Regions from separate parts of the Homo sapiens genome. Here region 1 is reported to be linked to region 2. Evidence: microRNA targets listed by miRTarBase, many of them from high-throughput screens and not tested one by one. Region 2 holds a microRNA gene; the other region holds the end of a gene's coding sequence.
What was found. The annotated mature microRNA hsa-miR-6747-5p reads AGGGGUGUGGAAAGAGGCAGAACA and lies in region 2 at 2,170-2,193, shown strand. An mRNA with a match to its seed (bases 2 to 7 or 8) in the 3' UTR can be bound and repressed. Matches are read on the target gene's strand: a 7mer-m8 pairs with bases 2 to 8, a 7mer-A1 pairs with bases 2 to 7 and ends in A, and an 8mer does both.

Region 1: miRTarBase lists PYGO1 as a target of hsa-miR-6747-5p. The part of its 3' UTR that is shown has no 7-base or 8-base seed match.

Annotation. Positions count from the first base shown.
Region 1 is chr15:55,543,155-55,546,567 of GRCh38, forward strand. It overlaps PYGO1 (pygopus family PHD finger 1), which reads right to left. Exons shown (of 3, transcript NM_001367806.1): 3 at 1-3,413. The coding sequence ends at 2,869. Among named protein-coding and RNA genes, the nearest start is that of DNAAF4, 37 kb to the left of the region's middle.
Region 2 is chr11:62,565,820-62,569,235 of GRCh38, reverse strand. It overlaps MIR6747 (microRNA 6747), which reads left to right and starts at 2,165; the gene lies at 2,165-2,225. EEF1G (eukaryotic translation elongation factor 1 gamma) reads left to right here. Exons shown (of 10, transcript NM_001404.5): 6 at 1,708-1,837; 7 at 2,226-2,430.

The DNA.
Region 1 (3,413 bases), not on the chromosome of region 2:
ACCTGTGTTTTTTTCCATCACTGCATATTTTTAAAGTTGAAGGCAGCTTATCATTTATCCTAAGAAGCCATTTCAGTTTGTATAATAGCCTTCTTCAGACAAATTATCATCTGGCTATTCTTACAGTTCATCACTTATTCCATCCAAAAGCATCTATATAACTTTTGACTTAGCATTATGTAGAGACAAATGTAGAACTAGCAGGAAAATTAATTCAAACACATGAACGCTATTCATCAGCTATGATTACAGTTTGGCTATGATTCACTATCAGAATGAACCGTGAGTTTTTCTTTTGAATATTTACAGATTCTTATTTAAGTAAGGTGCTTTGAAGACCTAAACACCTGAATAAAAATTCACCTGTTTGTAGGTTTTTAAAAACAACTATGTGGAAATAGAAAATGAATTATATTGCATAACACATACCTTTAGACTAGCTTGGGAGAAGTTATTTCATTTTCACAAAAACAGCTAACTACTGAAACTTAAAGAGATAAAGGGTTTAAGAAACTGCATAATTGATTTTAGTAATGATCACAACTCAAGTACTACCATGTAAAGTGTTAACTCCTGAGAACACTGGAAAGTTCTACTCAAAATATCTATCATCTAGCTCTATTCAGGGTAATAATAAATCATGATCTGATGCTACAACTAGGCATACAGCATACAGTGCATCATTTATTAAAAATCAGCACTCATTAAACTTTCAGGAGCAACATAACTAGGTCCTTAAACATTTAGAGAAATATGTATAATAAAAAATCCAAGTAAAATGAGATCTTCAAGTACACTACTGAACACCATCAAATGCCTGTCAGCCCAAAATACTGCATTTTAACCTGCTTCAACTGGTAAAGTTTTCACACAAAGGAGTACCTAGAAGTATAGTTTATATCATTTTGTTTCCTAAAATTGTAAAGATAAATATTTTACAACTACTGAAAATATTTTGTACTCACCTCTAACTAGTCAAGGGTAAATGGAGAAAACCTTGTATTACCTTGTACCATATGAAATTGCTGTTTTTGTAGGTCAAAATTAAAACAATGTATTTAAAAAAATAAGTTTTATTCAATCAAAATATGCATCAGGAGCATGAATAGTTTTCTTCCAACAGAATATTAAAGGTCTAACTTTTATAAAATTCATCATTTGTTAGGCTGTATAAATTGTTAACATCTTCCAGTTACTTCATCTCGATTGGGGAATGCATTGTTTCTTAGAAAAAGCTCCAAATGATAGACAGTAGTCCATGGAATAAAGGTCCAGTGACTAAAATGGACATGACAAAATTTCATAGCCCAAGTCACTTAACTTTGCTTTAGTAGCTTGTGACATGTGAGGTCGAGTCCTTGTCTGTGAAAGTGTAGGTTCTTGTGTGTTACCCAAAGGACATTGTTTTTAAATCACATTTTCATGCATAATTTAAATTTCTTGATAATATGCTGCTGCCGTCATTGTTTCACTTGGGTTTAAATAACAGTAATTATTTATCTCTTTCGTAGATCACCACACAATCTTCAGAATTTTTTTGGTTGCAATGATAATGGTGGCAACATATTAGGGAGCTTTACCAGCCTCCAATGATTGTATAAATTGCCATTAGCTGTCAAACAGCACACATTTTTTTTTTTTGGCCACAGGTTATAATCTGCTCCAAAAATGGATTTCTGCTGTTTTGAATCTTAATGAGCACAACTCCAACTGTCTCCATTCTTGATCATCCCTCAAGAGGGTACTCTCAGGTCCATTTTTATACTTTTCCCCAGTCAGAGCGGGAATTCCTTAAGTCTGCTGCAAGGCTTCAAATTGTTGTTTGCAAGTTAGATTTCACTTTGGCTCTTAATTGATCTTTGTTTAAAATGGATTTTGATCTCCCCTAGGGTTCATTTTTGAAATTCAGATCCCCAGAACAAGATTTTTCAAACCACCACTGAGTAGTTCTTTTACTAGCAGAGCCCTCTAAGGCCAAATGGATGTTTCTACCTTCCTCATCTGCAATATGTCCCAGTTCAAAATTATAAAAAAGTATTCACAATTCTTCTGTGGATACTATAGTATTTCTCTGGAAAACAATAAACAATAACAAGACAACTCAATATCAAAGAAAAGTAGGAGCATAATACTATCATAATTCTAAATAGCACAACTGGGAACGTACGTTATACCAACTTTACTAATTGCAGTCAATTTTCAACTGATCTAATATTAGCAATTTCATGTGGTACCATCCACAAGTTAATCAACAATACTTACTGAGAATTTACTATATGCTAAGATCTGTCTCGTATCTGTACAAACAGATATCCTGAAAACTCACTTGAAATATGAAATTCATTGATTCCAAAGACCCTAGTGGAGGAGGAATCTGGTGTCATACTATTATTTTTTTAATCCATAAAAATGTATGCTTTCCCCCATGTTACAGTTACATATATTATGTTGTGAAGACGTGTTAAGTGGATCCTTGATAAACTTTTTGAACTAAATCTTTAATATGGTACAACCAAAGTTCAGCACTGAAATACACGTTTTTCAATGATTCTAACTTTTAAAAGTTAAAACTTGCCTACATTTGTTATATATTATTTTGAAGTTTCAAGAGGCTTTTATGTTTGTGATAAATAACAACAACTAACATTTATTTATGTTTCTAAAGCACCCCCATATACATTATTCTCATTTAAGACAGCAAGCAAAGACAATAAAAAATTTGCTCTAGTGATGAAGTGATTAATAAAAACTAAGTAAATAATGTTTTTGTGTATGCATTTAAAAAAATAATGTAAAACATTAAAATCCTGTGTCAATGAACTTCTGCAATGCACAGGAAAATAAACCCACTTTAGTTAATGCCTTTGATTAAGCATCACTGCCCACTGCAGATGGACCAAAAGTTTCTCTAGTACGCATTAACTGGACATCTTTGTCAGCCATACAGGTATCACAGCCCCATACTGCAGATGCTTCTGCAGTTAAGAGGCCATAAGCTGTTTCAGTCATTCCAGTACAGATCCGATGAAACCATTTCTGACAAGAGGCCTCACATAAGATGGCATCCTGATCATCGTTCACCTCGTTTGTACAAATTCCACAAGGATACACTGGGTCAGAAGACGAATGGCCATGACGGTTTGGGTGAAGAGAGGATTTATTGCTTTTTTCTGTGGTGCAGGCATCTGCTGCACCTCTTGGTTGTCGTGGCTTATTCTGCGTCCCATTTGCAGGGTTATTGTTTGTGGCTTCAGTGCTACTTGAACGGCTGTTCTCCTGATTTACTGCATTGTTTCGATTAACATTTTTTAATTCAATATTACTCTGATTCACTGTGTCATCCATATTCAAGTGAGGTGGATGAGCAGAGGAATTTTGATTAGTGTTTTTGGTTGCTCCTTGAGTAAAGTCTT
Region 2 (3,416 bases):
CCTCCCAAGTGCTGGGATTGCGGGGGTGAGCCACCACACCCAGCCAGGACTGTCCATTATTCTAAATGCGTTTGAATATTTTCTTTGAATGTTCTTTACTTTCTGAAGTTTGATGGATGGGTGGGTGTGGGGGGTGTGTGTGTGTGTGTGCGTGTGTGTATAGTATGGCCAATATAGATAGTAAATACCTATAGTGTTTAGATTTTATTTGGCAAAAAAGTCCTCGATAGCCCTCTGTGGGTCTCAATCTTTTTTTTTTTTTGAGACGAAGTCTCGCTCTTGTCCCCCAGGCTGGAGTGCGATGGCGCGATCTCGGCTCACTGCAACTTCTGCCTCCCGGGTTCAAGTGATTCTCTTGCCTCAGCCTCCTGAGTAGCTGGGATTACGGGCATGTGCAACCATGCCTGGCTGATTTTTGTATTTTTAGGAGAGGCGGGGTTTCACCATGTTTGCCAGGCTGGTCTCGAACTCCTGACCTCAGGTTATCTGCCCGCCTCGGCCTCCCAAAGTGCTGGGATTATAGGCGTGAGCCACCGCTCCTGGCCGACGTTTGAAATTTAAAAGATTGGAAACAGTAGATCTGAAATAGTTTTGTAAAGGAGCAAGACAATTATTACTCCTACTCCTAAATGGAGGATGGACCCAAGCATCCATCCATTAAACTGGACTACACTGAAAAAAAAGATTAGAAAAAGAAATGGAGGCCAGGTGTGGTGGCTCACGGGTAATCCCAGCACTTTAGGAGGCCAGGGCAGGAGGATTGCTTGAGCATGCGAGTTCAAGATAAGCCTGGGCAACATAGTGAGACCCCATCTCTATTAAAATTTTTTTTTTTTTTTTTTTTTTTTGAGACAGAGTCTCACTCTGTCACCCAAGCTGGAGTGCAGTGGCGTGATCTCGGTTCACTGCAACCTCCACCTCCTGGGTTTAAGTGAGTCTCCTGCCTCAGCCTCTGGAGTAGCTGGGACTACAGGCACGTGCCACCACGCCCAGCTAATTTTTTTTTTTTTGAGACAGAGTCACTCTGTCACCCAGGCTGGAATGCAGTGCCGCGATCTCCGCTCACTGCAAGCTCCGCCTCCCGGGTTCACGCCATTCTCCTGCCTTAGCGTCCCGAGTAGCTGGGACTACAGCTGCCCGCCATCACGCCCAGCTAATTTTTTTATTTTTAGGAGAGATGGGGGTTCACCGTGTTAGCCAGGATGGTCTCGATCTCCTGACCTCGTGATCCGCCCGCCTCGGAGATCCCAGCAGTTTGGGAGGCCGAGGTGGGCGGATCACTTGAGGTCAGAGTTCGAGAACAGCCTGGCCAACAGGGCGAAACCCCATCTCTACTAAAAGTACAAAAATTAGCTGGGTGTGGTGGCAGGCACCTGTAGTCCCAGCTACTCAGAAGGCTAAGGCATGGGAGGCTGAGGCACGAGAATCACTTGAACCCAGGAGATGGAGGCTGCAGTGAGCTGAGATCACGCCATTGCACCCCAGCCTGAGCGATAGAGTGAGACTCTGTCTCAAAAAAAAAAAAAATTGAAAAAAATGAAGAAATGGGAAGTAATCCAGGGAAGGATGATGTTGTATGAAGCTATTGTCTATAGGGTTTGAAAAGAAGGTGAGCACTGGGACTTAGGTAGAGCAAGGACTCTTGCTGTGAACAGAACTCTTCAGGGCCTTTCCACTGACTTTGTTTACACCCTTATGTCCTGGCAGGTTCTAGAGCCTTCTTTCCGCCAGGCCTTTCCCAATACCAACCGCTGGTTCCTCACCTGCATTAACCAGCCCCAGTTCCGGGCTGTCTTGGGCGAAGTGAAACTGTGTGAGAAGATGGCCCAGTTTGATGGTGAGTCTGAGGAGACTGGGAGGCATATGGCCAGGATCAGGGTCTGGTTTGCTCTGCATCAACCCCTTGATTTCCTGTCTTGCTTTTGGGTTATGGGGACCTGCAGAATGTAGGGTGTCAATGTGGTAGCTAATATTATGTGCAGTTTCGTGTACACTCATACCCTGACTAATTTGTATTACTATATAGATTTGCGATATAAAGTATTTGTTGCTGAGTGTGTTGTTGCTGGAGGACACACAGTGAACTGATGAGCAGTCTGGGGCCTAAGTTCCTTACTTGTCCCATTCGTCAGTTTCCTCTGTTACCTTGCTTGCTCTGTGTGGTTTTGGAGGGGTGTGGAAAGAGGCAGAACATTCGTTCACTTTCCTGCCTTCCTCTGCACCAGCTAAAAAGTTTGCAGAGACCCAACCTAAAAAGGACACACCACGGAAAGAGAAGGGTTCACGGGAAGAGAAGCAGAAGCCCCAGGCTGAGCGGAAGGAGGAGAAAAAGGCGGCTGCCCCTGCTCCTGAGGAGGAGATGGATGAATGTGAGCAGGCGCTGGCTGCTGAGCCCAAGGCCAAGGACCCCTTCGCTCACCTGCCCAAGAGGTAAGGATATTGGAGGGTGGAGGGTGTGGGACCAAAGAAGGCCTGTTCTCACCTCTGTATGTCCCCCCTCACACACAGCTAGAGCCAGAATTTTAGGTTGTCCATATAAAGTTAAAGGTATATTTTAGTTGCAAATAAAGCAGCTTTCTGGCTGATAATCAGGAATTGGGCAAATTTTGATTGTGGAGAGCAAGTTTCAAGTACAGCCAGTACTGGGGAAGATTGAACTCCTATTCCAACAAAGACAGGAACAGATTTTGATATAGTGGTAAGTTGGTTTTGAGCAAGCTCATTTGACCATTTGAGAGCTCTGAGAACAAATACAGGGAGAGGCGTGGGGAGGAAGAAAGTGCAGAGAGCCTTGCGGTGCGCCACGCGCCCGGCTGTGCGGAGATAGTGGATGCCAGAGCAGGGTCCTTTGAATTGTTTTGTTTTCTGTTTTGCTGAATCAGACTGTACAAAAATTGCTCACTAAGAAAAAGGATGAAGATCATAGCTAAGTAGTGTCTGTCTAGTTCATTGTTCCACAACCGAGTAAAGTCCCCAAGTAGAAGAAAGTAGGTGTCCTCTGTATCCCTTTTTCAGTTAAAGGTAGGGCTTCTTGGAAGAAATAATATAGTAAAAACGAGATTTTTGGCATGAAAAATGTAGGACGCTGAGTGCTTGCCCAGTTCTCTGGGATGGAGTCTTTCTTCCATCACTGCTCCAAGTCATTTTATTGGGAGTTCAAGCAGTTTGAGAAATATATATTCTGTGGTCACTTTGCTTTGGAACTCCTCTTTCTCTGTACTTTTTCCTCCCACTCACCCTGTCATTTCCAAAGCCGTTCATCTTTTTACTGCTTGGTCTGCTAGGGTTTACATTTCACCCTCTCCCATCTTGTAATGGCTTGGATACCGGGTGAACCAGCCTAAAGGAGCACCCACTGGTAGGGACACAGTAGCTGTGCATAGAATTGTGAATTACAAGCATTGCACTAATAGATG